Linked DNA regions of Homo sapiens: region 2 is linked to region 1. The links come from fine-mapping of genetic effects on gene expression. A gene starts in region 1. The other region holds a variant in brackets. All regions are shown on one strand. Distances are from middle to middle.

Evidence for each region. PIP is the estimated chance that this variant, and not a neighbour inherited with it, causes the effect.
Region 2: its variant is the best candidate, but not a certain one, in a credible set for the expression of STAU2 in blood mononuclear cells (TOPMed, PIP 0.51).

The regions. Positions count from the first base shown.
Region 1 is chr8:73,741,969-73,757,914 of GRCh38, forward strand. STAU2 (staufen double-stranded RNA binding protein 2) reads right to left here and starts at 4,872. Exons shown (of 15, transcript NM_001164380.2): 1 at 4,815-4,872. RefSeq lists silencers at 4,275-4,334, 4,445-4,624, 4,915-5,004, 5,085-5,374, 14,131-14,220.
Region 2 is chr8:73,557,672-73,573,617 of GRCh38, forward strand. All of the region lies in intron 12 of STAU2 (staufen double-stranded RNA binding protein 2), which reads right to left. Among named protein-coding and RNA genes, the nearest start is that of STAU2-AS1, 150 kb to the left of the region's middle. The variant C/T (reference allele first, on the strand shown) is at 7,763.

The sequences.
Region 1 (15,946 bases):
TCTATAACAGCACTCTGTAATTGGCTAACATTCTGAAAATTATACTTTTTTAAGCAAACCAGTTATTTTAGATTTACATCAATTTAAAAATTGTAGTTTGTAATTATACCATGGACAATTCAGAATGTTCACAGTGGCACGTCTTTAAGACTCTGTTTCTACTTTAAAGACACGCCCAGTCTACTGTCACATATTTTAAACAATTTGCTAAAATATCAAGACATATCAATAAAATGCAGAGCAGTTTTATACTACCTTTGGTTTCATAAAATCCACCTCCTCAGCTGGGTGTGGTGGCTCACGCCTGTAATCCCAGCACTTTTGGAGTCTGAGGCGGACGGATCACCTGAGGTCAGGAGTTCGAGACTAGCCTGGCGAACACGGCAAAATCGTCTCTACTAAAAATACAAAAATTAGCCAGGCATGGAGGCACGCACCTGTAGTCCAGGTACTCAGGAGGCTGAGGCAGGTGAATCGCTTGAACCCAGGAGGCGGAGGCTGCAGTGAGTGGAGATTGCGCCACTGCACTCTAGCCTGGGTGACAGAGTAAGACTCCATCTCAAAAAATAAAAATAATTAAAAAAAAAATCCACCTCCTCTATCACAAAAGTTTCCAGCTACAGTTGATTCCAATTACAACTAAGCGCTTTTAGAGAAATGTATCCATGCGTCCCAAAAATGCCCTATCTGGTCAGGCATATGAAGACAGGCAATTCTAGATTCCAAACTACTAAATGAAAACAAGCAGGATTATAGGGAGACGGCTGGGGAAGACGTGATGCTCATGAAGAATGGCCCAACCTGTAACTGCAATGTACTGCTGATATAAGTCGTACTTTAATTATGAATTACATTTTGCCCATCTGAGAAATTAAAAGCTGCACAGAAATCTATATAATCCCCAATAATTAAACTGCTTTATAAAACGGCACTGTTACTAAATATGTATAAATTTTTTATATCAGCACCCATCCTACAGTTGATAGGCAATTCTCACTTAAATGTCTTATTTGACAACATGAAAAGCAAAAAAAATTTACTATCTCTACTCTTAGACTACAAACTGCTACAAAACTATCAATTCAATGCTTATTACTCTAAAAAAGATATACGGTCCTTTAAAGAGCTTTTTAAAATGTTTTTCATTTTGATTTTTCAAAGTGGGTACCCAAAAACACTGCTTTTATGTAAGGAAAACAGAAGTCTTACGCCACAAACTATTCTAGTGGAAAACTCTAAATAACACAGGCCAGAAAAAAAAAAAAGGAAACTAACATTTTTCAGACACCAATTGTATACGCTAGGTGCCACATTTTGCCATTTTTACATCAACTCATTTAATCCTCATCATCTTGGGATGTAGGCATTATCTCCATTTTTCTAGAGGTTGGGTTATTTGCCTACAGTCACATTGCTAGGTTTAGAACGGTTCATTCTGGCCCAAAGTCGTCTTTTCTTCACTATACACCAAATTAAAAAAGACTTGCCTTCTTTTTAATTTTTTTTTTTTTTTTTTTTTTTGAGACGGAGTTCCACTCTTGCTGCCCAGGCTGGAGTGCAATGGGCACCATGTCGGCTCACCGCAAGATCCGCCTCCTGGTTTCAAATGATTCTCCTGCCTCAGCCTCCTGAGTAGCTGCGATTACAGGCATGCGCCACCACGGCCGGCTAATTTTACATTTTTAGTAGAGACGGGGTTTCTCCATGTTCGTCAGGCTGGTCTCGAACCCCCAACCCTCAGGTGATTCACCCACCTCGGCCTCCCAAAGTGCTGGGATTACAAGCATGAGCCACCATGCCCGGACATTTTTTTTTTTTTTTGAGACTGAGTCTCACTCTGTCACCCAGGCTGGAGTGCAATGGCGCCATCTCAGCTCACTGCAACCTCTGCCTCCCGGGTTCAAGCGATTCTCCTGCCTCAGCCTCCCGAGTAGCTGGGATTACAGGCGCGCACCACCACACCCAGCTAATTTTTGTATTTTTAGTAGAGACGGGGTTTCACCATGTTGGCCAGGCTGGTCTCGAACTCCTGACCTCCTGATCCACCTGCCTCGGCCTCCCAAAGTGCTGGGATTACAGGCATGAGCCACCCCACCTGGCCAATTTTTTTTATTTTCTATGATCAGCTTGGTGAAAAATAAAAGATTTGCCTTCTTATAATTTTTCCTGGAACAAAGTCAAGGGCTTGACCTCTAGGACAACATAATGGCAAAGCTCCTATATAGAACTTGGGGAGGATTATTTAAAATCAAACGATGCACACATAAATAAAAATGATAATTATTACTGATTCTAGACATCTAGTATTTTGTGTACCTATAAGAGGCACAAATATATCTATATGTGAATAATCATACTGTGCGTGTCTCAAACTATGCAGTCTAAGAGAATTCAATTTTGCAGTATCTAGAGTTTTCCCTCTTTATTATGATCTGTACCTATAAATGATCAGATTCCCAGCACTGAACGTGCACAAAACAAGATAATAATAGGAATAAAGAGAAGGGTAGGCACAAAGGAAAAAAAAAAAAAAACCTACCATATCTTCTAGAACCTAAACAGGAAAACCGCTCTGCCTCGATTTCTGGATTGTTTGTATATTTAAAAGCTTGATGACTATCTTAGATTTTTTTTATATTCATACTATTTGTTGAAAAGCAAACCAAGCCACTCTTCCTAGCACTTCATTCCAGACAAGCCAAGTAAGCTAAAATGTAAAATTTGCATGGTTTTCCAAGCTCAAGTATTTAGGAGTTAAGGATCACAATGTATGTAACTTACCCTTAAATGGTCCAGGGGAAAAATATTTTGTGTGTGATAGAGAGCAAATAATAAATACATAAAATGTTAACAGGTGAATCTGAATAAAGGTTACAAAGATTTTCTTTGTATTATTCTTATTCTTGCCATTTGTCTGTAAGCTTGAAATTATTTCCAAATAAAGTTAAAATTTAAAAATTACACAGCATTTTATTTGAAATTAACAATACATACTTGGATTACACAGCAACATTCTTACAAATACAAAACACTGGTTTTTATGGGGAAAAATGCAGTAATTTGTGAGCAAGTATGTACCATATCCTACCAACTTATCATCACTTAGGAATAAATTTCAGACTAGCCTACCATATAATAAAATATGGCAATAGTGACTTGACTTGAAACCATAGCAGGAAAACACAAACACACCAGATAGTTTGGCATAACTGCTTCGCAAATTTAATACAGGCCTGCTGCAAAATGCAGCAATCTACAATTAAAGTGTTATGTGATATCTCTTGTTTGCAGTAAGATACAAACTGAACAATGAAAATCTGGCCATACTACAAAACAGAGATGGAGAGTAAGTCTTGGTTTTGGTAGTTTTATTAAATAAGATTTTTCCACCGCAGCTGAGTTCACAACAGTGTACTTGAATCATCTAAAGAAAGCAAGGACGGGGAAGAAATATCCTGGAGAAATGTTGAAATCTTTTCTCCTCCAAGGTTACTATCACCCTGCCTGTCCATCACAATTTTGATTTCAAGTATTCACGATGCTGGTCTGAAACACAGGATGCATCAGAAGCCAAGTAATGCTCAGCAAAAGTTCACCAAAATTGTGAAAGCAAACATTAAATAAAAAACGTTTTCAATTAACAGTAAAATATCTTTAAAGGATCATCTCTAGCCTTTCTTTCTGCAGGATCCACCCACTTTAAAATCCTTTGGTAAATTCCCAGGTCTACCCTAATTGAATGGTCCCTCTCTATCTGCTCAAGCAGTTCTTAACCCTTTGGAGTGGGGATGGGGGTAAGGGGACATCACAGCAAATATGGACCCTTACCAAAGAAAATTATTCACAAATGCAAAATTCTACACACATTTCCAAAGACTTCCAGAATCCCACGGCCATTACCCCCACCGCCTCCCTAAGAATCCCAGAGTGGCGTGCTTCTCAATGGCCTCTGCGGAGCACCCCCAGCCCCCAAGCCACAGCCCCCGGCTCGACCCCGAAGAGACTAGAGTTCCTGCTCTCACACAGCGGATTCCGTAACTGAGCTTTGTCTCCTCGCCCAACTCCCTTCACCCCGGCAAGGTCACTACCGCCAACTACCCCTTTAAGCCGAGCCATCACGGTAGGAGTTCGTAACAGCCACAGCAGAACTTGCCTGTCATAGGATATATTTTGTCCCCTCGGCCCCACCTACCCTCCCCATTTCGGCAAGTTACGTCTTTACCACTAGCCCATTCTACAGAAATAGCTGCCGCCGCCACCCTCCGGCGCGCCCCGGCCCCGCCGCTCCGCCTCCAGCGCCCCCAGGCCCATTTCCCGCAGACCCTCCCCGGGCCGCCCTCCCCTGCCCTACTCTAGGCGCTCCCTCTCCCTCGCAGCCACACCGTGGCTGCACTCGCCGTCCTCTCTTCCGGCCGCTACCACCCCGGCCCCCTAGAACCCCAGCCTCCCGCGCCCGCAGCCGCGTTCCTGTCTCCCCGACCTCCGCACCCCCACTTGGCCCGGCCTCCTCGCCTTCCTCCCGGCTCCTCCCCTCAGGACACCTGTGTCGTCCCACCCCCTCCACCACACACGCACCCCCCACCCCAATTCCTTCGCCTCCCTGTCCTCCCTCCCCCGCCGGTCTCCCCTCCCCGCTGCTGCCCCGAGAGCCCGATGTGGGAGGGAAGGCGCGGGGGAGGGGAGGCCGCGAAGGGGGCTGCTTTTCTCCGGGTTCCCCGTGCTGCGGAACTGCAGGGCTCCCCAGCGCCCTCTGCCTTCTTCGCCGGCGGCGCGGAAGTCGGGGTCTCCCGGACGCCCCCGATGAGGGTATTTACCTTCTTGCCGGGGACACTTTGCAGACGGCTCCAACATTGGCAAACACTACAGAGAACTGACCCCGCTCGGCCGCCGCCGGCTTCCACCCCTCGGGCTCCCCGCCCCCCGCCTCCGCCCGCCTCCGCCCGCCTCCCCGGCGCTCCCGCCGCGCCCTCCCGCGCTCGCGCCGCGCGCCCCCGCCTGCGCAGCCGCTCCCGCGCCCCAGCACGCCCGGCCGGCGCGCGCGCCCGGCACCGGCTCTACCTCCACTCCGCCTCCCGCCGGCCCGCGACCAAGCGCGGCCATTGTTCGCGACGCAGCTCCCGCCCCCTGGCGGCTGCCGGGCCCCAGCAGCTGCAGGCTCTGCGGGGCTAGCGGCGGCGAGCTGGGCCCCTGGGCGAGGGCCATTCCCGGGGGGCTTGGGCACGCGGGCGAGCGACTGCGCAAGGAGCGCGCCCGGTCCGCAGTCTCCTCGTCCCCGGCGCGACTCCCCGCCCCCTCGTCTGCCAAGGGTGGGCCTGGGGCAGCCCCTTCCACACCTGCAACTCGGCAACTTCCTTCCCCGCCCGACTGACCGTCTGCTCTTTCTGGTCCGCACCCTGTGCTCTGATTCCCCGCTCGTACCTTTCCCAGGCTCTCCGGCTGCCCCTCTGTGCTGTGCAGGGGACGCGCGACCATCCCGCGTCTGCTCCGGCCGCCGCTGTGCAACGCACGGTTTAGCGGATCTTGCACCTTTCTAGACGGGGGAGGGGGCGGGGAGGAGGTTGCTTCACCGTCTCGCCCAGCAAACACCAGGGATCCGTGATCACCTGCTCGCCAAGACCCGCGGCGTGGCCAGACCTCCTCTTCTACCGAAAATATTAGTCACATGAAAAAGAATCCTTGGAGCCAAAAATGAGAACCATTGAAAACAATGCCCTGAATCCTAGATTTATGAGGCAAGAGTGCCAGAAAACAGAAATTACGTCTTAATTCGTCCTGGTTTTGATGTGGATTACTTTTGTCTAGATAACTTCAACCCAGTTAAGCTCAATGAAACTGAACACTTCGTTTAGTAACCGGCACCAAAAATAATCTGACAAAGAAATTTCGAAATAGAACTATTAGTGTGTTTTCACAAACTTACTCGTTTGCAACGTTATTTCTAGGGTTTCTTCCCAGTGTCACTTCTCTGACTGAGAAATGTCTCCCAGGCCGGTGATTTCAGTCATCATCTAAAACCAATCTCATGTCTGCACCTGGGAAGGTAGTGTGTGTCCTGGTTAACCGCAAGGGCGCCAGAGTCAGATAACCAAGGCTGGATATCCGCTTGCTAACTGGTGAGGAGACCACGGGCATGTTACTTATCCTGTGCATCAAGAGGAGACTACATGTGATAGATAGTTCGTATTTAAATGTGACAATACATATGAAGCCCTTTAAATAGGACCGGGTATGTAGTACCTCTCCTGGTACAATGTTAGCTACAGCTATATTTTTCCTCCCAGAACTCTTTCCTATGCTCCTTTCCCCCCTTTTCACCTCTGCCAGTTCCCTCGGATTTAACATGTTGCATCCTCCCTAAATTTGCTGTGCTCCTTCTAGCGGCTTACGCACCCAGTCAGCATTCTAATACAGTCATGCCTTACCTAGCCACAAGGATATGTTCTGAGGAACGTGTCATTAAGCGATTTTTGTTGTTTTGCGCACATCATAGCGTGTTCTTACGCAAACCTAGGTAGTCTAGCCAACTACTTGCTTTGGCTATATGGTATATAGCTATTGCGCCTAGGCTGCAAACCTGTACAGTGTGTTACTGTACTAATACTGTAGGCAATTTTGCAACACAAGGGTATTTGTACCTAAACAGAAAACCTACAGTAAAAGAACTATATAATCTTTTTTTTTTTTGAGACGAAGTCTCGCTCTGTCACCCAGGCTGAAATGCAGTAGCACAATCTCAGCTCACTGCAACCTCCACCTCCCGAGTTCAAGCAATTTTCCTGCCTCAGCCTCCCTGGTAGCTGGGATTACAGGCACATGCCACCACGTCCAGCTAATTTTTGTATTTTTAGTAGAGACGGGGTTTGACCATGTTGGCCACGCTGGTCTCGAACTCTTGACCTCAAGTGATTCCCCGCCGGCCCCCCCCCCCCCCGCCCCTCCCCACCACCTCGGCCTCCCAAAGTGCTGGGATTGCAGGCGCCCGGCTTAAAGAACTGTATAATCTTATGGGACCACCGTTGTATATGCAGTCCACCTGTCCATCATTGACTGAAAGAAGTTGACCAGAAATTGTTGAATATTTTGAATGAATACCTTACTTTCCCACCAGCCATACCAAGGGTCAAGCTGCCTACCTCTGTGTCTTTCCATAGGCTATTCTCTCTCCCTTCAGGCTACCCTTCTCTCGCCTGGTGAACAAATAATCTTTCACGGCATTCAAAAATCACCTTCTTGGCCGGGTGTGGTGGCTCACACCTGTAACCTCAGCACTTCGGGAGGCCGAAGCGGGCAGACCACGAGGTCACGAGTTTGAGACCAGCCTGGCCAACATGGTGAAACTCCATCTCTACTAAAAATACAAAAATTAGCTGGGCGTGGTGGCACACACCTGTAATCCCAGCTACTTGGGAGGCTGAGGCAGGAGAATTGCTTGAACTCGGGAGGCAGAGGTTGCAGTGAGCTGAGTTCGAGCCACTGCACTCTAGCCTGGGCAGCAGAGCAAGACTCCATCTCAAGAAAAAAAAGAAAAAAAATCACCTCCTTGAGAGGCATTCTCTAACACTCCTCTGAGCAGGCGAGTGCTCTTCTCTTGTACCTCTCTTCTCTGATATTGTAGGTATGTTAGAATTTTTTTTTTTAGCCTGTCTGTATCTACCAAACATTGCATTGTTGAAGGGCAGGCTCTGTGTCTCATGCATATCTGTAGTCCCAGCATCCAACAGCAAGTAGGTGGACGGTAAATCCTTTGGTATAAATGGATGAGTTTATACTTTTGGAAAGAACTCTGGGGTGGTCAGATTTCATTCTCTTTGATTCAGATCCTTAAAGTTAATTGAAAACTTTATCCCTCCCGTAACTGTTCCTCATAACTGATTTTCAGTCATTGGTAAACCCCAAATAGAATGAATTTTTCTAAGTCACAATTATCAGAAAGGAAATTGTTTTTTAATTGAATCAGCACTTTCAGTTGCTCAAGGTATATAGTATCAGTACATGAAATCACCTGAGTGACATGGAAATCCACACATCACTCTACAATCATTTTAGGATTTACTTTAAAATAAAATATTTGTATAGGAGTTGAAAATAATGAATATTTAAAGAGCGGTGGGCCAGCCGGCTGTGGTGGCTCACGTCTATAATCCCAGCACTTTGGGAGGCTAGCGTATCACCTGAAGTCAGGAGTTCGAGACCAGCCTGGGCAAAATGGCAAAAACCCCATCTCTACTAAAATTAGAAAAACTACCTGGGCGTGGTGGTGCGTGCTTGTAGTCCCAGCTACTCAGGAGGCTGAGGTGGGAGGATCACTTGAGCCTGGGAGGCAGAGGTTGGAGTGAGCTGAGATCACACTACTGCACTCCAGCCAGGGCCACAAAGAAAGACCCTGTATCAAAAAATATAAATAAATAAAGAACAGTGGGCCTATTAATAGGCAGCTGATTAAAGCAAATGAGGCCAGGCGCAGTGGCTCATGCCTGTAATCCCAGCACTTTGAAAAGCCAAAGAGGGAGGATCTCTTGAAACCAGGGGTTTGAAACCAGCGTGGGCAGTAAAGTGAGACCCCACCTCCATTTAATTAAAAATAAATTTAAAATTAAATTTTTTTTTAAAAAGCGTCTGTTTTATCAACACATTTTTACCAGTCACCATTGCAGTGAAATGTTCAAGCATCAGGAAAAAGATAATGCTTTCAAATTCACCATTATCGGATTTGAGCAGTTTGAATGGGACAGATTCCAGAATCACAAACTCCAGTTTCCTTCTATGTCCTCTTCTTTCTTATATTATATCTTATATTATGATGCCCTTTTCTTGACATTTATTTTCCTGTAAAATTCATCTAGCCCCCAGCACCCACCATAGAAGTTACCCTCCTTTATTGATGATATCTGAATTTTTTTAAATTCTTTTTTTGAGACAGAGTTCTTGCTCTCGCCCAGGTTAGAGTACAGTGGTACAATCTTGGTTCACTGCAACCTCTGCCTGCAGGGTGCAAGCGATTCTCATGCCTCAGCCTTCTGAGTAGCTGGGATTACAGGCATGTGCCATCAGGCTTGGCTAATTTTTGTATTTTTGGTAGAGACAGTTTGTTTTGCCATGTTGCCCAGACTGGTCTTGAACTCCGGGCCTCAAGTTATCTGCCCTCCTCGGCCTCCCAAAGTGCTGGCATTACAGGAATGAGCCACTGCATGGCCCTGAATTTATTTTTATCACTACACACTATTTATGTGTTTCTTCTACTATATCTTAAGCTCCTTGAAGGCAACAACAATGACTTTCTCTTCTTTGTTTCTCTGGGACTTAGCACAGTGCTCACTAAATGCTTGTCAAATGAAGGGATTAGCAAATTTGACCAACATTTACTGAATACCCACTATGGGCCAAGTACTATTCTTGGCCTAGGGATGTGTAGCAACGAAAAAAATCTGCAAAATCTTTGTCCTCATGGAACTTACAGGGGAATGAATGAATAACAAATGCATGAAATAAGCACTTCCAAACACTGTACTTTATTAGAATAGCATTCTGAGGCCGGGCGCGGTGGCTCACGCCTGTAATCCCAGCACTTTAGGAGGCCGAGGCAGGCAGATCATGAGGTCAAGAGATCGAGACTGTCCTGGCCAACATGGTGAAACCCTGTCTCTACCAAAAATACAAAAAAATTAGCCAGGCGTGGTGGCACACGCCTGTAGTCCCAGCTACTTGGGAGGTTGAGGCAAGAGAATCGCTTGAACCCGTGAGGCGGAGTTTGCAGTGAGCTGAGATAGCTCCACTGCACTCCAGCCTGGGCAACAGAGTGAGACTTCGTCTCAAATAAAAAAAAAACATTTTGAAAATTCCCAATATATTTATGTGTTCAGTAATAAAAGTATTGCTTGAAACTCAACTTGTTTTCATAATAATGTCAAAATAATTATTAAGGTATTAGCCACCTAAAACGCTGCTAAAAAACAGTAGAAATATATTTTACAAAGTGGGCTAGGTGCTGTGGCTTGTGCCTGTGACCCCAGCATTTTGAGAGACAGAGGCAGGAGGATCGCTTGAGGCCAGGAGTTCAAGACCAGCCTGGACAACATGGCCAAATCCTGTCTCTACAAAAAATAAAAAATTAGCCGAGTGTGGTGGTGCATTTCTGTAGTCCCTGCTACTTGGGAGGCTGAGGTGGGAGGACCACTTGAGCCCTGGAGCTCAAGGCTGCAGTGAGCCATGATCACACCACTGCACTCTAGCCTGGGCAACAGAGAGAGAACCTGTCTCAAAAGAAAAAAAAAGGTAATCAATTATATATAAGAAACAAGCAGGTATATGAAAAAATGCTCAAAATTACTAATCATCTGGAAAATGCAAATCAAAACCACAATGAGCTATCATCTTACCCCAGTTAGAATGACTGTTATCAAAAAGACAAAAGATAAATGCTGGCCAAGATGCAGAGAAAAGGAAACTCTTGTACACTGACAGTGGGAATGTAAATTAGTACAGCCGTTATGAAAAACTGTATGGAAGTTTCTCAAACAACTAAAAATAGAACTGCCATACAACCCAGCAACCACTACTGCATATTTATCCAAAGAAAAGAAAATCAGTATAGCGAAGAGATATCTGTACCCCCATGTTCATTGCAGCACTATTCATAATAGCCAAGATATGGAATCAACCTAAGTGTTCATCAGTGGATGAACCGACAAATAAATGGGTATAATGGAATATTATTCAGCCTTATAAAAAGAGATCCTACCCATTAAGACAAAATATATGAATCAAGGATATTATGCTAAGTGAAATAAGCCAGACACAGAAAGACAAATATCACATGTTCTCACTCATATGTGAGAGCTAAAAAAGCTGATCTCATGGAGATAAAGAGTAGAATGATGGTTACCAGAGGCTGGGAAGGGTGAGTGGGGGAAATGAAGAGGGATTGGTTAATGGGTACAAACATACAGTTAGATAGAATGAATAAGTTCTAGTGTTCAATAGCACAGTGGGGTGGCTATAGTTAAAAATAATTTATTATACATTTTAAAATAGCTAGCAGAGAAGATCTGAAATGTTCTCAATACAAAGAAATGATAAATGTCTGAGGTAATGGATATCCCAATTACCATGATTGATCACTATACATTGTATGTATGTATCGAAATATTACATGTACTCCATATACATGTACAGATACCATGTATCAATTAAAAAAGAAAACTCTCAACTAATAAGAAAAAAAATAAGGAAACAAAAATATACTTAATGAAGTATGGAAAGATTCTTTTTTAAGTCTTTTTTTTTATCCCCCTGAGACAGGGTCTTGCTCTGTTGCCCAGACTGGAGTCCAGTGGCACAATCATGGCTCACTGCAGTATTGACCTCCTAGGCTCAGGTGATCCTCCCTCCCCAACCTCCCAAGTAGCTGGGACTACAGGCACGTGCCACCATGCCTGGCTAATTTTTTTAATTTTTAGTAGAGACGAGGTCTCACTAAGTTGCCCAGGCTAGTCTTGAAATCCCAAGCTCAAGTGGTCCTCCTGTCTTGACCTCCCAAAGTGTGAGCCACAGTGCCTGTCCTCTTTTAAGTCTTATGGCACATGGTGTTAAATAATTTTTTTTGAATACAAATAATAGGAACTGGGTGTGGTGGCTCATATCCGTAATCCCAGCACTTTGGGAGGCCAAGGTAGGGGGATCACTTGAGGCCAGGAGTTCAAAACCAGCCTGGTCAACATAATGAGACCCTGTCTCTACAAAAAACAAAAAGTTTTTAATTATCTGGGCATGGTGGCATGCACCTGCAGTCCCAGCTACTCAGGAGGCTGAGGTGGGAGGATCACTTGAGCCTGGGATGTCAAGGCTGCAGTGAACTGTGATGGTACCACTGCACTCCAGCCTGGGTGATAGAGCGAGACTCTGTCTCTAAAGAATAAAATTAAATTAAAAATATATACAAAGAATAAAAAGAAAAATTTGCCGAGCATGATGGTGCACACCTGTAGTTCCAGCTACTCGGGCTGAGGTGGGAGGGTCTCTTGAGCCCAGGAGTTGAAGGCTGCAGTGAGTCATGATCATGCCACTGCGCTCCAGCCTCAGAGTAAGGCCCTATCTCAAAAAAATAAATAAGTAAATAATAGGGACCCAATTATGCTTGTAATGACTTTTCTTTTTTCTCTATAACTATCATCTTGTCTCTGAATTTTTTTTTCTTGGGGATATTCGCATTTTCCACCATGCCAGAAATTTGGTTGTCAGCCAGTCTATCTAGTATTTTGATTCTAATTTTTTCCTTAAATTTGTAATGGCATCATTTAAGTCTTGATTTCATTCTTAATTAAAATACAAGACAAGATAGCTTTACAGTCTGCCCTTTCAACTCAATCTGTGTTTTATCATCTGTAAGTTGAAGGTTTTTTAACAGAATATACAGATTCTACAAACCTTGGCATGTCCTTGTCAGGTAGCCCGTTTGAAGAGACGTCAGCTGCCACGTCAATGAGTCAGGGCTTTCATGACTAAGTCATCCTGGGACCCCATGGAGAGCTCTAGTGGGGAGGAGAGTGAGGACTGGGACAAGCCCATAGAGGTTCCCATCCTCTCTGTGCATCCAGTGGTCACCAACAAGATAAAAGTGAACCAATTGCAGCCACAGTGGGGAGCCCCCAAGAATTGCCCCCACCTGAAAGACTGCAGCACACCACGATGTGGGATTACACTACTGTAGAATTGGTGGAGCTGGGAAATAGGTTCAGACACAAGGGGAGCATCAATAGCGGGGTGGCTGCTCCATCTAGGAGTTGTGGAGATGGAGGAAGCTATTATACTCCCAAGACTCAGGATGAGTAAAATGGCATCCATTAGAAAACCCATCAGAAAAATATGTTACATTTTTCTGTAGTGCAAAGCCTTCATAGAAATAGTCTTCTGTTCCATGAGGTATTTTTCTTCTAACTTGAGTTCTTCCTTTATCTTTTGAATACAGTGTTCCATTTATTTGTTTATTTAGCTATAATAGTGGCATAATTTTTTTATTTTTATTTTTATTTTGAGATGGAGTCTTGCTGTGTCACCCAGGCTGGAGTGCAGTGGCGCCATCTCGGCTCACTGCAAGCTCCGCCTCCCAGGTTCACGCCATTCTCCTGCCTCAGCCTCCCTAGTAGCTGGGACTACAGGCACCTGCCACCACGCCCGGCTAATTTTTTTGTATTTTTAGTTTCACAGTGTTAGCCAGGAAGGTCTCGATCTCCTGACCTTGTAATCCGCCCGAATAATGGCATAATTTTAACATAATTTATTCTTATTTTGTTCATATTTAATCTGGGAAACTGTACCCAGATCCTCTATTAGCTTAGCTTTGCCCAGTCTAATGGGCTTCTGGAGAAAATAAGATTTTATTTCATTAGTTTTTAGGAGTGGGAAAGGTTCTAGAACCTGGTTTTATTCCACCCTGTTTACCTTAAATATCGAATACTTTTCTTTGAACTATACAAATATATTATATATGTAACAAAACCTAGAAGTGTAACTTGTTAGTTATTATTTGAATGTCCTTGCAGTGGAAATAAATTTGTGACATCTCTGCACACAAGAGAAGGAGGAGGGGGCTAGGGGAGAAGGGAAAGATGGCAAGTATTGCTTTTTAAACAAGTACAATGACTTCTTTAAACACTTCTTAATTGTGACTGTTTTGACAGACATCATCTTAGCAATCACTTCATCTTTCCTTTCCAATAACTTTTCCAAAAGACTTCATTATAAACTTCATAAAACATTGTTTTTCTCTTGCCAATTATAAAGGAGGAAAAAAACTAAAAATTTCAGCTATGTATACCTGTATTGAAGAGGAACAATTCCAGAATTCCAGGAACTGAGGATAAAGGGGCAGACAAGTAGATTGGCCACACACAATGCAGTGATACAGAGAAACTACAGACAATATCTGAACAATTTTCTGTAGTCTCTCTGTATCACTGCCATTGTGTGTGGCCAATCTATTAATATTTATCTGTCCCTTCATCCCAAGTTCCTGGAATTGTTGCTTCTCATTCTTTCTTTTCTTGGCTAATTGTCAATAGCATTCTGAATTTGAGACATATTGCAGTGTAATATGGCACCCCAAAATGTAGCAGCTTCAAGCAACAATTTATTTAGTTCAGGCAGGGCTCAGTATCCTGTCTCTGCCCCATGCAGTATCAGCTAAGGGCACCTCAAAGGCTGGGAGCCCAAATCATGTAAGGACTCACTCATCTATAGTTGATGATGGTTTTCCACTGGGACCGCAGCTGGGGCTGTCAACCAGAACACCCACATGTGGCTTTTCTATGTACCTGCAGATGTTGCTGGGGTAGGGCTGAGAGAGGAAGGAACAAACCCTGAGTTTGGCCCCCTCACAGCATGGTGGCTGGGTTCCAAGAAACCAGAAGTAAAAGTCACTACTTTCTTAAAGCGTGGCCCAGAATTCAAATATGCTTTGAATTCTGCCCATATTCTACTGGTCAAATCACACAGTCCAGATTCAAGGGGAGGGCACCTGATCCTTTCTTTCCGTGGAAGGCACGTCAGAGGATCTTAGAATCACATTTAAAACTCCACACATTTTCCTGTAATCCCAGCACCTTGGGAGGCCAAGGCAGGCGGATCATTTGAGGTCAGGAGTTCGTGACCAGCCTGGCCCACATGGTGAAACCCCATCTCTACTAATAACACAAAAATTAGCTGGCCGTGGTAGCAGACGCCTGTAATCCCAGCTACTCAGGAGGCTGAGGCAGAAGAATCGCTTGAATCCGGGAGGCAGAGGTTGCAGTGCACGGAGATCATGCCACAGCATGCCAGCCTGGGTGACAGAGTGAAACTGTGTCTGAAAAACAAAAACAAAAAACAAAAACAAAAAAAACAAAAAATACCTCCACACATTCTCTGAAACATATCACCTTGTCTTTTCACCATATTGCTCCTATGTTAATATAAAGGTGACATAGAAAATTTCCTTCCATTGGTACCTACGCTTTTCTGCATGAATCATCTCAGCTGGCTTAATTCATTTAACACCTTTCTTGTGCTGAAGACAGATAGGCACACCTGCACTGCAGAGATTACAAACACCAGATTGAAGTGGAACAGGCCTTACTAGTCTTTTCTAGTCTATTCTCCTTCCCAGGTCAAGGGGGATGCTTTAGGCAAGTTAAAACAGTCAGTAGTTGCGGTAGCAGCCGAGATGAAGGAGTAAGTTGGAAGCTGGAGGAAACTCCCAGGCAGTAACATGCAATATGTAACATTTAGTCATGGCCTGTTTCTGGGACATGCTGTAGCTGGAAGTGGGCCATGATCTCAGTGGGGAAATGGCCTAGGGAGGGACCAACGGAAGGCTGTCTGACAAGGTCGGGCCAGGCTACTAGTGTCAGAGTGCTCAGTACCCAGAGCAGGGTTTGTTCCTTCCTCTCCCAGCCCTACCCCAGCATCATCTGCAGGCCTGAGCCCTTCATTCATTTTCTCATTGAACAAACATGCCTGCCAGTGGCAGTGCAGCCTGCTGGTGTGTTCAGATATTGTCTCTAGTCTCTCTGTATCACTGCCACTGTGTGTAGCCAATCTACTTGTCTGCCCCGTCATCAAAGTTCCTGGAATTGTTGCTTTCTGCATCCTGTTGACTGCTCTCCAACACACACACACACACACAAACACACACACACACACACACACACCACATACCATTTCTTTTTTCCTTTTTTTTTTTTTTTTTTTTTTTTTTGAGACAGAGTCTTGCTCTGTCACCCAGGCTGGAGTGCAGTGGTGCAATCTCGGCTCACTGCAACCTACACCTCCCAGGTTCAAGCAGTTCTCCTCTCTCTGCCTCCCAAGTAGCTGGGATTACAGGTGCCCGCCACCACACCCAGCTAATTTTTGTATTTTTAGTAGAGACTGGGTTTCACCATGTTGGCCAGGCTGGTCTCGAACTCCTGACCTC
Region 2 (15,946 bases), 180 kb before region 1:
GATAAACTTTTTCTCATGTAGCTACTTTAGGTCTGTGCCTTCTTTGACCTCAATTTTGCTCATGGACTTCAACCACTACACTTCCCTCGCTCAGGCTTGTAACATCCATTATATTCATTCACCCTTTATCTGAAGAGGTCCTGAACCCATTCTGCCATCATCTATCTTTTGTCCCTGGTTTTGCCTTTGATGCTCCCATCTTGGTACAGTCTATAACTACAGTACACAGTTACAATGCAGATACAACATGGGCACTGTTCTAGTACTTTACTTCTCATTTAATTCCCATAACAACCATATGAAATGGGCATTATTATTTTCCTATATTAGAGATGAAAAAAACTGAAGCATGGAGAAGATATGAAACTCTCCCAAGGTCATATGGATAATAAGCAGCAATGCTAGAATTTGACTCCAGGCAGTCTGCCTCTAGAGTTTGAATACTTAACCATTACCTTAAATAGCCTCCTAAAAGAACAGGTAGGAAACTAAATGCAACATCTCACCAGCTCCAAACCCCTAAGGCTTAAATCCAGTAAGTAAATGCCCGGGGTTTGCCCAGATTGGTTCCAAGGATGACCCATGTCATGATGGTTGTCCCTAGATGTTCCAGAGATGAGCTCACCAAAATCTCACTGAAGTATACAGAGTTTATACATGATTTTAAAGGTCTAAAGTTGCCAGGGACTGTGATATCTTAACACCAGGCTATTGTACCCACTTGACATGTTTTTGCTCAGTAGATCTGTGCTTCTTTCAGATGGGTATATGAATCCTCTGGCACACAAATCTTCCTGGAGCATCTTTATGGAGCTCCAGTTCTTACTGAAGAGTTGAAGAGGGACTTTTGAATTGGAGAGCTCTTAAAAGGTTTTATAAGCGAACTTAGGAGAACCTTGCCTTTCAATGATCACTGATGTCATGATTCTTTCAGAGATGCTGAAGAAGATAAGTGTTTGTGAGTAGCAAGTGGTATCAGAGGTATTAAAACACAGCAAGCCAGGCAGCAAGAAAGATAATGCCACTGATCCAAATGGTTACTGCCACTCCACTGGAACTCCCAGTTTCTCTGGAAGTCCTTGGAATGGGCATAGCTATTTCACAACAAATAATTTCTTTTCATTTTTCACAGAAAAGCTTTGAAAAAAAAAACTTTGTTTCCATTGCCAGCTTGAATTTACGCCTCAACAATGTTGGACTATAAATTTGTTTATAAATACCCAAATATCCAATAATACTCAGGCCCACTTTGCTACAGTGAGTTTTTCACAATAAAAAATTATAATTAAAAATTCTTAAGAACTAGAAACAGGGGCTTCTGGTTCAAAACAGGAAATGTGAGAAAATTATGAACAACAGCATGATTATCTGTCTCTAGTGATTTTTAAAAATCATTTATATGAGAACTGGTAGGCTCTAAGTAAGGTCTGTAGTCTAGTTCATTGTATTATGACAATTTCCTAGTTTTGAAAATGTACTATAGTTATATAAGACATCACCACTGGAAGAAGCTGAGTGACGGGTACATGCAACCTCTTTGTACCATTCTTATAACTTCTTGTGAGTCTATCATTATTACACTTTTAAAAGTTTTTTTGAAAGCACCGTTTTATGCTGCTTTGGGCCTCTCCCTCAACATAGAGACCCCAGAACAGGGTGGTGATGGGGACACCAAAGTGGGAAGGACTGGTGGCAGCACCATTCCTAGATATAGCTCTGAGGATAAGCAGGGCTGGCACTGGCAATGCCTGCTCCTTGACAACTTTGCTCACGGCCTTTGCCTAATGCACAGGCCCTGGCTCCCCAGGCTCTGGGTGCTTGACTTTTAGCTACATGAAAGCAAGGGAGATCCTGATGACAGTGTGGGCCTCATAGCCGGGACCTTGTTCTCTCCCAGGGTAGCCTGAGGCCACGTATTAGTTAAGAGTACATGTGACCCAAGGGAGCCTACTGGACCACCATGGTCATGTCCCTGAAGGTCAGGGACAGGTGGAATGCATCCTTGGCATGATCTTTAGCTACTAGACTGATGTGAGCTACAGAAATCCCCCTTCCTGCTGCCCTGTTGTTGGGATCAAATCGAACAGGTAGTATTTGTAAGTGACTCCACCTCTTCTTTTACACACAGCTCACTGCAAATCTGGTCTTCCAGATAAGGCCCTCAGACCCTTAGTTCTGCCTAATTTTTAAGCCAAATATATACTACTTATGAAATCAAAAATCAACAATGCAAAATATAAACTCTTGTGGAAAACTAAAAAGAGAAAATGTTAGCTAACAGCAAAACAATGAAAAAATAAAAAAATAGGTAAATAATTTGTTAGAGGTTTCTTCTTAAGATCAGTTTCAGAATCACCTTGGAAACGAAAAAGACACACTAAAAAAAGAGTCATTACTGAACAGATTTTTTTTTTTTTTTTTTTTTTTGAGACAGAGTCTCGCTCTGTCCCCCAGGCTGGAGTGCAGTGGCGCCATCTCGGCTCACTGCAAGCTCTGCCTCCCGGGTTCACGCCATTCTCCTGACTCAGCCTCCCGAGTAGCTGGGACTACAGGCTCCCACCACCATGCCTGGCTAATTTTTTATATTTTTAGTAGAGACGGGGTTTCACCGTGTCAGCCAGGATGTTCTCGATCTCCTGACCTCGTGATCCGCCCACCTCGGCCTCCCAAAGTGCTGGGATTACAGGCGTGAGCCACCACGCCTGGCCAAAATGATGTATTTTAATGTGCTCAAAAAGCATAACCTGAACAGTGGTGAAAATCAACCTTGCTCTTACCCTTAGAGTTGAACGGAAGCACTGATTTTATTAATTTGTGCATTTTATTGGTCCTTTTTTTCCTGCTACATTTAACATAATGATGTATGTGAAGGGTTCTTAATTTGGTGAATGTTTATGAATAAAATTACTGACAAAGAACTTTTCAGGAAGATGTTTGCCTTTTGGTGAACACAGTACCAACGGGAAAATGCACTTAGTCCAGTCTTGCCCCCAAAAAGGCAGAATCCCAGGTCATGACATAGCATCCAGCACACCTCCAAGAGGAAGAAGGAGGAATACAAAATAGTAAATAATACATATTCCTCAAAACACCAATAATGAACAGAAATAACAGCAATAAAGGTTTTTCAAAAATGTTTTAAAGATCAATTTATGATGAACTGGGAAATGCCTTTGGAAAGCTTGTACCTTAGTCAAATAAAAGTGCGAGTGAGTTTTCAAATTCAGGACTGGCTGCTATTTTTTCTTTAAAACAGGCAAATGGAAAGTATTTAATAACAAAGAATATAAACCTGGGTATGGTGAATAAATTCATCATTCATCTTTTTTTTTTAAACCTTACACAAATGCAGTAACTTATACTTTTGCCAGAAATTTTCTTTAACAAGAAGATTCTGGAGCCCAAAGTGAGTCATGCAAATCAAAGAACAGTCTGGCACAGGGGTTATTAATAGTGATCCAAGGGCCCCTAAATAGTTTGAAATAGGTTGACTTCACAACAAGGGCAGTGCACATTGTATATGACTCAGAGTCAGTGTGGTGCAGGGAAGTGATTGGGGAGTTCAGGAATTCCCCAGAAGCGCATTCACCACTCATCTTAATAATAAGGAAGATTTCACTTAGTTGGCTTATTTAGAAGAAATTTTTTTCAAGGCTCAGCTTTTCAATAAAGACACAACTGTGACTATTTCTACCAAGTAAGACAAAATAGTTGCTGTGAAAATGATGTTTGAGAGCACCTTGTGAGGATAATGAGTCATCTTCAATTTTTAGTTTATTTAAGTGGGGTTAAAATGTTGCTCGTAAAATAAAGATCGTTCTTCTTGGTTATGATTCTTCTCAGAAAAACTCCATTAGTTATGATTTCCCTACGACAGAAAAACACCAAAAAATGGATTATATAAGTCTGACATATGACAAAAGTGACCTGATCTCTCAGCAGGAAGAAACACATACTGAAATGTCTACCGCAGCAGCTTCCAAACACTGCACCACAATACTCCTCTGCCAGGATTCCTATTGCTTCCTAGTCAATACCTGCAAACGGCTCACAATACAATAATAGTACAATACAATAACAATAATAATTCTGGCTAAAACTCATAGAGTCCTTACTAGATATCAGGCTTGTTCCAAATGCTTTGCATATATTAGTTTAGTAATCCTCACAATGACCCTCAAGAAGTAGGGACTATGAATATTCCCATTTTACACTTGAAGGCCCTAAGACACAGGTGATATGACTGGCTTAAAGTCACAGCCAGTAAGTGGCAGGTGTTGGGGCAGTATCCAGGCATCTGGCTACAGTCAGCAAGTATAACTACCTTTCAGTAGTAAAACAAATAAACCAAGAACTACTGTTCTTATATCTATACATTTAAGAAGTTCTGGGCATTTAGATTCTTGAAATATTCTAACACCATGATAGAGACAAGAAACTGTCAAGATATTGAACTTCATTTCTTCATTTCAGACCTATTTTCTAGGCTCAATGAACCTCAGTCTCCCCTCTCATAGTAAAAGAAAAGATGGAGGTCAGTGCAGTGGCTCACACCTGTGATCCCAACACTTTGGGAGGCCAAGGCAGGAGGATCACTTGAGGCCACAAGTTCAAAACCAGCCTGGGCTATACAGCAAGGTGCTGTCTCCATAAAAAATTAAAACTTTAGCTGGGCATGGTGGCATGCACCTGTAGTCCCAGCTACTCAGGAGGCTGAGGTAGGAGGATCCCTTGAGCAGAGGAGTTCAAGGCTGCAGTGAGCTATAATGGCAACTCTGCACTCCAGCCTGGACACACTGTCTCTTTAAAAAAGATAGAGAGAGAGAGAGACTGAGATTTTTCTCACTGTAAAACCACCCATTGGGAAAAATGTAAAAATAATGCACTTGGCTATTTTCACAATTTTGTTTGTGGGAAGAAAATAAATTCAAATATTAGGTTCACACAAAGAAAAACTTAAGCACAGCCTTAGGATGAAAGAACTTAACCCACAAAACACTTTCTTACAATTCTCCTTATATGATCTAATTATGATTTAACAATTTACTACACATTAGTCTATTATTCAGTCTATTATATATTATTCAGAAACTTATGGAAGAATCCACAATATTATTAATAAAAACAACTAACTGGAACTGTATAAATATTAAGTACTGGGCTGGGTGCAGTGGCTCACACCTATAATCAGCACTTTGGAAGGCTAAGGCAAAAGGGCTGCTTGAGCTCAGGAGTTTAAGACCAGCCTGGGCAACACAGCAAAACCTCATCTCAAAAACTGTATTTTTAAAATAATATATATATATAAAGTACTTATCCAATTTTTAAATTTTCTTGTAAAAATAACAAATTCACTTTTTAGAACCAGGAAAGAAGCAGCCTAGCAAGAAATAAAATTTAGACAAAACACACCTTAGTCCAGCCAAATACACACAAAAAAACCTGTTCTCCCACTTTTATCTATGTATCAAAGGCAGAGAGGGACTTTCACCCTTGCAAAGCTGTAACAACTCTCCCCAACTTCCCTGATGTGGTAGTGTCAGAAAAAACTGAGTAGGCAGCTTGGACTTTCATCCTAGCCCCGTGGTGTCAGTGGAGATCATGTAGGGACACTAAACTTCTACCCCCACCTAGCAGTAATAGGATGCCCCCCACCTCCGTGCTGGAGTGGTGTCAGGAGAGAATAAAGGAGAATCAGAACTAGTGGGAACAAGGTCACCTCACTATGGTGTCAGTGGAGACCATATGGGGACCAGAATTTCCACTCAATCCAGGGCTGGGGGTAGGGGAAAGGGTATGGCTATAACAGCACAACATGAGGAACTCTCATGGTGACAGAACTGTTCTGTATCATATTTATATTAATACCTTAGTTGTGATATTGTACTATAGTTCTGCAAGGTGTTACCAGAGATAAACAAGGCAAAGGGTCCATAGGATCTCTTTGTATTAATTCTTACAACTGCATGTGCATCTACAATTTTCTCAAAATAAAATTTTTATTAATTATTTTAAAATTTATTGTAGAGACAGGATCTTGCTATGTTGCCCAGGCTGGTCTTAAGCTCCTGGCCTCCCACTTCAACCTCCCAAAGCATTGGGATTACATGCATGAGCTACCATGCCTGGCCATCAAAATAAAAAGTTTAATAAAAAAGAAGTCTTGGGTGACACCAGCAAGATGGTAGAACAGGAAGTCCCAGCCCTTATTCCTAACTCATACATTGATTTAACAATGATATACAGACCAAAATACCTTTTTGAGAATTCCAGAATCCAGTTAAGAAGTTGCAGTATCCCAGATGAGCACAAAGCCAAGAATGGCCACACTGAAACATGTAAGAACAATTTCACTTTACCCACACCACCCCCCTAAGTCAGCATAGCTTAGTGCCACATAGCTTAGTGCCGGGAGAGAGCATTCCAGATCACAACTTCTCCCTTGGGGTAAAGGTGAGTGGAATGTGCATCCAACATTTTACGTTTTCAGAGGGCTTCCCAAGGGACTAATTTTTGTCTTGCTTCACTTGGAGTGCCGACAGAGCCAGCATATTTTGGATACCTGGGATATTTAGTTTTCCCGGCACCATTTGTTGAAAATGTGGTACACATACAGCATGGAATACTATGCAGCCATAAAAAAGAATGAGATCATGTCCTTTGCAGGGACATGGATGGAGCTGGAGGCCATTTTCCTTAGCAAACTAACACAGGAACAGATATTAAATACTGCATGTTCTCACTTACAAGTAGGAGCTACATTATGAGACCACATGAACACATAGAGGGGAATAACACACACTGGAGCCTATCGAAGGGTGAAGGGTGGAGGGTGGAGGGTGGAAGGTGGAAGGAGGTAGAGGATCAGGAAAAATAACTAACAGGTACTAGGCTTCATATCTGGATGATGAAATAATCTGTATGACAAGCCCCCATGACACAGTTTACCTACATAACAAACCTGCATGTGTACCCCTGAACTTAAAAAATGAAAGTTAAAAAAAAAAGAAAATATACTCAGTGGGTCCTCAAATAATGTTGTTTTGTTCAACATCATTTTGTTATAATATTGATGAGAAAAAAAATCAAATCCCACCTGGGCCACTGTCTTATGTGGAGTTCTCATGTTCTGCCCATATCTGCACTGGTTTTCTCCAGGTCCTCCAGTTTCATCCCACATTTAAAAGATATGCATATTAGGTTCACTGGCAGGTCTAAGTTGTCCCAGTATGGGTGTCGTGTGTGTGTGTGTGCGCACACGCGTGTGCACATGTGTCCTGGAATGGAATGACATCCTGTCCAGAGTTGGTTCTTGCCTTTGCTCCCTAAGCTGCTAGGATAGGCTCTGACCAACCTCAATCCTGAACTGGAATAAGTGGGTTAGAAAATGAATGACTGAATGTATACAAATGAATGTAAAATTAAAATCTGTAAAATGCACAATAATCATATAATATGGTTTGGCTCTGAGTCTGCACCCAAATCTCATGTGGAATTGGAGTCCCAGTGTTGGAGGAGGGGCCTGGTGGGAGGTGATTGAATCATGGGGGCAGACTTCCCCCTTGCTGTTCTCCTGATAGAGTGTTCACAAGATTTGCCTGTTTGAAAGTGTGTAGCACCTCCCCTGCTTGCTCTCTCTCTCCTGCTGGCCATGTGAAGATGTGCTTGCTTCCCCTTTGCCATCTGCCATGACTGTAAGCTTCCTGAGGCCTTCCCAGAAGCAAAATCCTGAACAGCCTGCAGAACTATTATCCAATTAAAC[C/T]TCTTTTCTTTATAAATTACTCAGTCTCAGGTATCTCTTTACAGCCCTGCAAAAACAGACTAATACATTACACAAATGCACAACAATAAACAATGCAGTATAAAAGTGTTCAGTGAGCCCACCATATTTGTTATTGTTTGTTTTTTAATTGTGTGGTGGTAGGAAGTACTGCTTACAATTTTCACTTTGCAAACATTTATACTTTGATTTAACCCACCACCACCATGACTGCTATCACTCACTTATTCACCCCACATTGAGTAAACAATTATCTTGTTTTTATTAAACTTTCTTAATTGTACATGTAAGCTCATATTTATTTCAATGTTTAATATTACAATTTGGGTCTTTATTGAGAAGTCTGGTGATATTTCTCTAACCACAAATATGTTGTGAGAACTTAACTCTTGTTTATATCAATCAGCCTATGATAAAACTGATTTCGTTATATGTCATTTCACTTAAAGTAGTAGTTTCCAAGAACCTATCAATGATGTTAAGTAAGAACTTACTGGATTTAATTTTTTTAGTGGTAAAGCAAAAAAAAGAAGTCTAATGTTCTGTATTAACACAAAATGTAATAAAGTAAAAACAACAATAGTACATTGGTAAATGCACCAGACTGGAGCCCAGCTATCTGGGTTTGAGTTGAGGCAGCAGATATTCTCCTTATCATGCTTTCTTCATCTGTAAGATGAATTAGTCTTAAGGAACTTTTCATTTCTTTCAGCCCTAATAATCTATGAATCATCTTAACACAAACCAGAAAGCTTGGAATAAAAGAACACACTTGAATAACATCACCCAAAAAGCCTGTTGAGTGTTTTTTAAATTTGACTATTACTAAAGTTTTTTTAAATCTTAAGAAAAATCAAGTAATGTAGATGGCTGTGTCACTGATGTAATAATAGTTAAAACAAACATTTCACATAGTTTCTCAGCCATTTAGTGTTTTTACATGATCCACCCAAATATCAATCTGGTATCTGAAACAATAGTTTGAACATTTTCCATGTAATAAAACATCTTAAATGTTTTATAAAAAAAGATTCTGGTACATGATATATAAAACATTCTTTCAAAAAAATGCGTACTTAATTTTAATGGAATTTCTTAAAAACACTATTCTCTTTTTTTCCTTTAATTATCAGCAAATGATATATCTAGAAATAAAGGTGCTGTCTAGTGGCAACTGCAGAGACCCTGGAGTCAGAAGACATGAGTTCAAGTCTTCACTACCTTTAACTAAGAGTGTCTTTAGACCCGTTATAAAATCAACTGAGCCTCAATTTTCCTGTATGTAAAACATGTGAGGTTGGACATTCTCCAACCTTTTCACACTTAAGCCTCCTTATGTTGTTTTTCTTCTATGTATACCATGCTTAAAGGATCTGTCTTTCAGACAGACTGCATTTATTAAGTAATAATAAATCATCTTTCAAAGACTGCCAACCTGAGATTCAGAACATCTTGAGGTCTGAATTCAAATAAAATTCTAATCCAAAGCAAAGCAATCTACTAAGAGTAACTGTATTACTTCCATTAGGTTGCTGAAATACTAATTATGCCAACCATTATTATATTGAATCCAACAATACCACGCTGAGAATCTCAGGTCTGGATCACACCTAAATTCCTAGAATTCTAATTGTTATATGTTATAAACTACTCAAAAGATCATTAATACAGTGGGGAAAAAAGTGAAAATGCAATTCTTGCATTTGCTCAAATACTGAGCACCAACAATGCCAGACACTGTGCTATGTGATTTACTTTTTAAGATTAAAAAAAAGGCCGGGCGCAGTGGTTCACGCTTGTAATCCCAGCACCTTGGGAGGCCGAGGCGGGCAGATCACCTCAGGTTGGGAGTTTGAGACTAGCCTGACCAACATGGAGAAACTCCATCTCTACTAAAAATACAAAATTAGCCAGGTGTGGTGGCATATGCCTGTAATCCCAGCTACTCAGGAGGCTGAGGCAGAAGAATCACTTGAATCCGTGAGGTGGAGGTGGCAGTGAGCCAAGATTACACCACTGCACTCCAGCCTGGGCAACAAGAAAACGATTAAAAAACGATTAAAAAAATTGATTTTTTTTTCAAATAATATTTGTCTCTCTCTCTTTTTTTTTTTTAAGATGAAGTCTCACTCATTCTGTGGTCCAGGCTGCAGTGGCACAATCTGTGCTCACTGCAACCTCCACCTCCCAGGTTCAAGCAATTCTCCCACCTTGGCCTCCTGAGTAATTGGAATTATAGGCATGTGCCACACCATGCCTGGCAAATTTTTGTATTTTTAGCAGAGATGGAGTTTCACCGTGTTGGCCAGGCTGGTCTCAAACTCCTGACCTCAAGTGATCTACCCACCTCAGCCCCTGAAGTGCTGGGATTACAGGCATCCCACCTTTTCTTACTCGCTGGGGGGGAGGGGGGAGTTGGGCAGGATGGTGGTGTTTATCTTAAATATGGACTCGTCTTTCAATAAGCAATTTCATCTTTAAAAACTACTGAAATCATCAATAATACCAAAAAGGGTACATTATAATAAACAAATACTTTCTAAAAAAATGAAAGAATGAATGATGCATTAACATTATACAAAGAAGTTTTAGGGAAACTATCTGCACTGCCTTCCTGAACCTTAATAGTTTTCAACCATACAGTTAGTTCCCTGTTGCTTATTTTAGTGCTTCATAATTGATGCTTTGACTACTCTCACATCTCTTATTTCTGTTGCCAAGGAAGGAGATTTTTGTCTTTTCAATTACTTGTACTCCATGTAGTACGTGCAAGAAGATTACAGACCAAGTACATCTTTATTCACATTTGTTTAAAACACACATTACTTTAAACTGACTCATGTTAAAACACAAGAAAGACTCAATGATTAAGCTGGGTGCAGTGGCTCATGCCTATAATCCTAACACTTTGGGAAGCCAAGGCAGGATGACTTCAGGCCAGGAGTTTGAGACAAGCCTGGGCAACTCCACAAGACCTTGTCTCTAGTCGGGGGAGTGGGGGCAAAGCTGGGTGTGGTGCCACGTGCCTGTAAAATTAGCTACTTGAAAGGCTGAGGCAAGAGGATCCCTTGAGCCCAGGAGTTCAAGTCTGCAATGAGCTATGATCATGCCACTGCACAACTGACAGAATTTTGCTAACAGAGTGAGACCCTATCTCAAAAAAAAAAAGACAACGATTAAAACTGGCACATAGATAGTTAGATGAACAGAGGAGAACAGAAAGTCTGGAATAATACCAAATTCATAATCTTAGTATATGGTAACAGTGAACTCTCAATGCAGTGGGGAATAAAGTTGGGTCCATACTTTCAGTATAAGTAACAGATGGATCAAGACTTCAAGATTTCAAAAAATGAAACTATAAGAGTTCCAGAAGATAACTTAAAAGAAATGTTTTGATTGGAGGTTCCAAGATGGCCAGATAGGAACAGCTCCATGCTGCAGCTCCCAGTGTGAGCGATGCAGAAGACGGGTGATTTCTGCATTCCAACTGAGGTACCAGGTTCATCTCACTGGGGCTTGTCGGACAGTGGGTGCAGCACACGGAGCAGGGTGGGGCATCATCTCACCTGGGAAGCGCAAGGGGTCGGGGAATTCCCTTTCCTAGACAAGGGAAGCTGTGACAGATGGTACCTGGAAAATCAGGACACCGCCACCCTAATACTGCGCTTTTCCAACGGTCTTAGCAAACGGCACACCAAGAGATTATATCCTGCGCCTGGCTCAGAGGGTCCCATGCCTACAGAGCCTCGCTCACTGCTAGCACAGCAGTCTGAGATCAGACTGCAAAGTGGCAGTGAGGCTGGGGGAGGGCCGTCCGCCATTGCTGAGGCTTGAGTAGGTAAACAAAGCAGCCGGGAAGCTCGAACTGGGTGGAGCCCACCACAGCTCAAGGAGGCCTGCCCGCCTCTGTAGACTCCACCTCCGGGGGCAGGGCATAGCTGAACAAAAGTCAGCAGAAACTTCTGCAGACTTAAACGTCCCTGTCTGACAGCTTTGAAGAGAGTAGTGGTTCTCCCAGCATGGAGTCTGAGATCTGAGAACAGACAGACTGCCACCTCAAGTGGGTCCCTGACCCCCGAGAAGCCTAACTGGGAGACACCTTCCAGTAGGGGCTGACTGACACCTCATACAGCTGGGTGCCCCTCTGAGACGACGCTTCCACAGGAACGATCAGGCAGCAATATTTGTCATTCTGCAATATTTGCTGTTCTGCAGCCTCCACTGGTGATACCCAGGCAAACAGGATCTGGAGTGGACCTCCAGCAAACTCCAACAGACCTGCAGCTAAGGGTCCTGACTGTTGGAAGGAAAACTAACAAACAGAAAGGACATCCACACCAAAACCCCATCTGTACGTCACCATCATCAAAGACCAAAGGTAGATAAAACCACAAAGATGGGGAGAAACCAGAGCAGGAAAGCTGAAAATTCTAAAAATCAGAATGCCTCTTCTCCTCCAAAGGAATACAGCTCCTCGCCAGCAACGGAAAAAAGCTGGATGGAGAACGACTTCTACAAGTTGAGAGAAGAAGGCTTCAGATGATTGGTAACAACAAACTTCTCCAAGCTAAAGGAGGATGTTCAAACCCATTGCAAAGGAGCTAAAAACCTTGAAAAAAGATTCGACAAACGGCTAACTAGAATAAACAGTGTAGAGAAGACTTTAAATGACCTGATGGAGCTGAAAACCATGGCACAAGAACTACGTGACGCATGCACAAGCTTCAGTACTGATTTGATCAAGTGGAAGTAAGGGTATCAGTGATTAAAGATTAAACTAATGAAATAAAGCGAGAAGTTTAGAGAAAAAAAGAGTAAAAAGAAATGAACAAAGCCTCCAAGAAATATGGGACTATGTGAAAAGACCAAATCTACGTCTGATTGGTGTACCTGAAAGTGACGGGGGGAATGGAACCAAGTTGGAAAACACTCTGCAGGATATTATCCAGGAGAACTTCCCCAATCTAGAAAGCCTCCAAGAAATAGCAGACTATGTGAATAGACCAAATCTACGTCTGACTGGTGTACCTGAAAGTGACGGGAAGAACGGAACCAAGTTGGAAAACACTCTGCAGTATATTATCCCAGAGAACTTCCCCAACCTAGCAAGGCAGGCCAACATTCAAATTCAGGAAATACAGAGAACGCCACAAAGATGCTCCTCAAGAAGAGCAACCCCAAGACACGTAATTGTCAGATTCACCAAAGCTGAAATGAAGGAAAAAATTTTAAGGGCAGCCAGAGAGAAAGGTCATGTTACCCATAAAGGGAAGCCCATCAGACTAACAGCGGATCTCTCGGCAGAAACTCTACAAGCCAGAAGAGAGTGGGGGCCAATATTCACCATTCTTAAAGAAAAGAATTTTCAACCCAGAATTTCATATCTAGCCAAACTAAGCTTCATAAGTGAAGGAGAAATAAAATCCTTTACAGACAAGCAAATGCTGAGAGATTTTAGTAAATGGGCTAAATGCTCCAATTAAAAGACAGACTGGCAGTTTGGATAAAGAGTCAAGACCCATCAGTGTGCTGTATTCAGGAGACCCATCTCACATGCAGAGACACACATAGGCTCAAAATAAAGGGATGGAGGAAGATCTACCAAGCAAATGGGAAACAAAAAAAAGCAGGGGTTGCAATCCTAGTCTCTGACAAAACAGACTTTAAACCAACAAAGATCAAAAGAGACAAAGAAGGCCATTACATAATGGTAAAGGGATCAATTCAACAAGAAGAGCTAACTATCCTAAATATATATGCACCCAATACAGGAGCACCCAGATTCATAAAGCAAGACCTTAGAGACCTACAAAGAGACTTAGACTCCCACACAATAATAATGGGAGACTTTAAACACCCCACTGTCAACATTAGACAGATCAACGAGACAGAAAGTTAACACGGAAATCCAGGAATTGAATTCAGCTCTGCACCAAGTGGACCTAATAGACATCTACAGAACTCTCCACCCCAAATCAACAGAATATACATTCTTCTCAGCACCACATCGCACTTATTCCAAAATTGATCACAGAGTTGGAAGTAAAGCACTCCTCAGCAAATGTAAAAGAACAGAAATTATAACAAACTGTCTCTCAGACCACAGTGCAATCAAACTAGAACTCAGGATTAAGAAACTCACTCAAAACCACACAACTACATGGAAACTGAACAACCTGCTGCTGAATGACTACTGGGTACATAACGAAATGAAGGCAGAAATAAAGATGTTCTTTGAAACCAATGAGAACAAAGACACAACATACCAGAATCTCTGGGACATATTTAAAGCAGTGTATAGAGGGAAATTTATAGCACTAAATGCCCACAAGAGAAAGCAGGAAAGATCTAAAATTGACACCCTAACATCACAATTAAAAGAACTAGAGAAGCAAGAGCAAACACATTCAAAAGCTAGCAGAAGGCAAGAAATAACTAAGATCAGAGCAGAACTAAGGGAGATAGAGACACAAAAAACCCTTCAAAAAAAATCAATGAATCCAGGAAGCGGTTTTTTGAAAAGATCAACAAAATTGATAGACCGCTAGCAAGACTAATAAAGATGAAAAGACAGAAGAATCAAATAGACGCAATAAAAAATGATAAAGGGGATATCACCACCCATCCCACAGAAATACAAACTACCATCAGAGAATACTATAAACACCTCTACGCAAATAAACTAGAAAATCTAGAAGAAATGGATAGATTTCTGGACACATACACCCTCCTAAGACTAAACCAGGAAGAACTTGAATCCCTGAATAGACCAATAACAGGCTCTGAAATTGAGGCAATAATTAACAGCTACCAATCAAAAAAATTCCAGGACCAGATGGATTCACAGCTGAATTCTACCAGAGGTACAAAGAGAAGCTGATACCATTCCTTCTGAAACTATTCCAATCAATGGAAAAAGAGGGAATCCTCCCTAACTCATTTTTTGAGGCCAACATCATCCTGATACCAAAGCCTGGCAGAGATACAACAAAAAAAGAGAATTTTAGACCAGTATCCCTACTGAACATTGATGCAAAAATCCTCAATAAAATACTGGCAAACCGAATCCAGCAACACATCAAAAAGCTTATCCACCACGATCAAGTTGGCTTCATCCCTGGGATGCAAGGCTGGTTCAACAAATGCAAATCAATAAATGTAATCCAGCATATAAAGAGAACCAAAGACGAAAACCACGATTATCTCAATAGATGCAGAAAAGGCCTTTGACAAAATTCAACAGCCCTTCATGCTAAAAACTCTGAAAAAACTAGGTATTGATGGGATGTATCTCAAAATAATAAGAGCTATTTATGACAAACCCACAGCCAATATCATACTGAATGGGCAAAAACTGGAAGCATTCCCTTTGAAAACTGGCTCAAGACAGGGATGCCCTCTCTCACCACTCCTATTCAACATAGTGTTGGAAGTCCTGGCCATGGCAATCAGGCAGGAGAGAGAAAGAAAGAAAGGGTATTTCATTAGGAAAAGAGGAAGTCAAATTGTCCCTGTTTGCAGATGACATGATTGTATATTTAGAAAACCTCATTGTCTCAGCCCAAAATCCCCTTAAGCTGATAAGCAACTTCAGCAATGTCTCAGGATACAAAATCAATGTGCAAAAATCACAAGCATTCCTATACACCAGTAACAGACAAACAGAGAGCCAAATCATGAGTGAACTCCCATTCACAATTGCTTCAAAGAGAATACAATACCTAGGAATCCAACTTATAAGGGATGTGAAGGACCTCTTCAAGGAGAACTACAAACCAGTGCTCAACAACATAAAAGAGGACACAAACAAATGGAAGGACATTCCATGCTCATGGATAGGAAGAATCAATATCGTGAAAATGGGCATACTGCCCAAGGTAATTTATAGATTCAATGCCATTCCCATCAAGCTACCAATGACTTTCTTCACAGAATTGGAAAAACCTACGTTAAAGTTCATATGGAACCAAAAAAGAGCCTGCATTGCCAAGTCAATCCTAAGCCAAAAGAACAAAGCTGGAGGCATCATGCTACCTGACTTCAAACTATACTACCGAGCTACAGTAACCAAAACAGCAGCGTACTGGTACCAAAACAGAGATATAGACCAATGGAACAGAACAGAGCCCTCAGAAATAATACCACACATTTATAACCATCTGA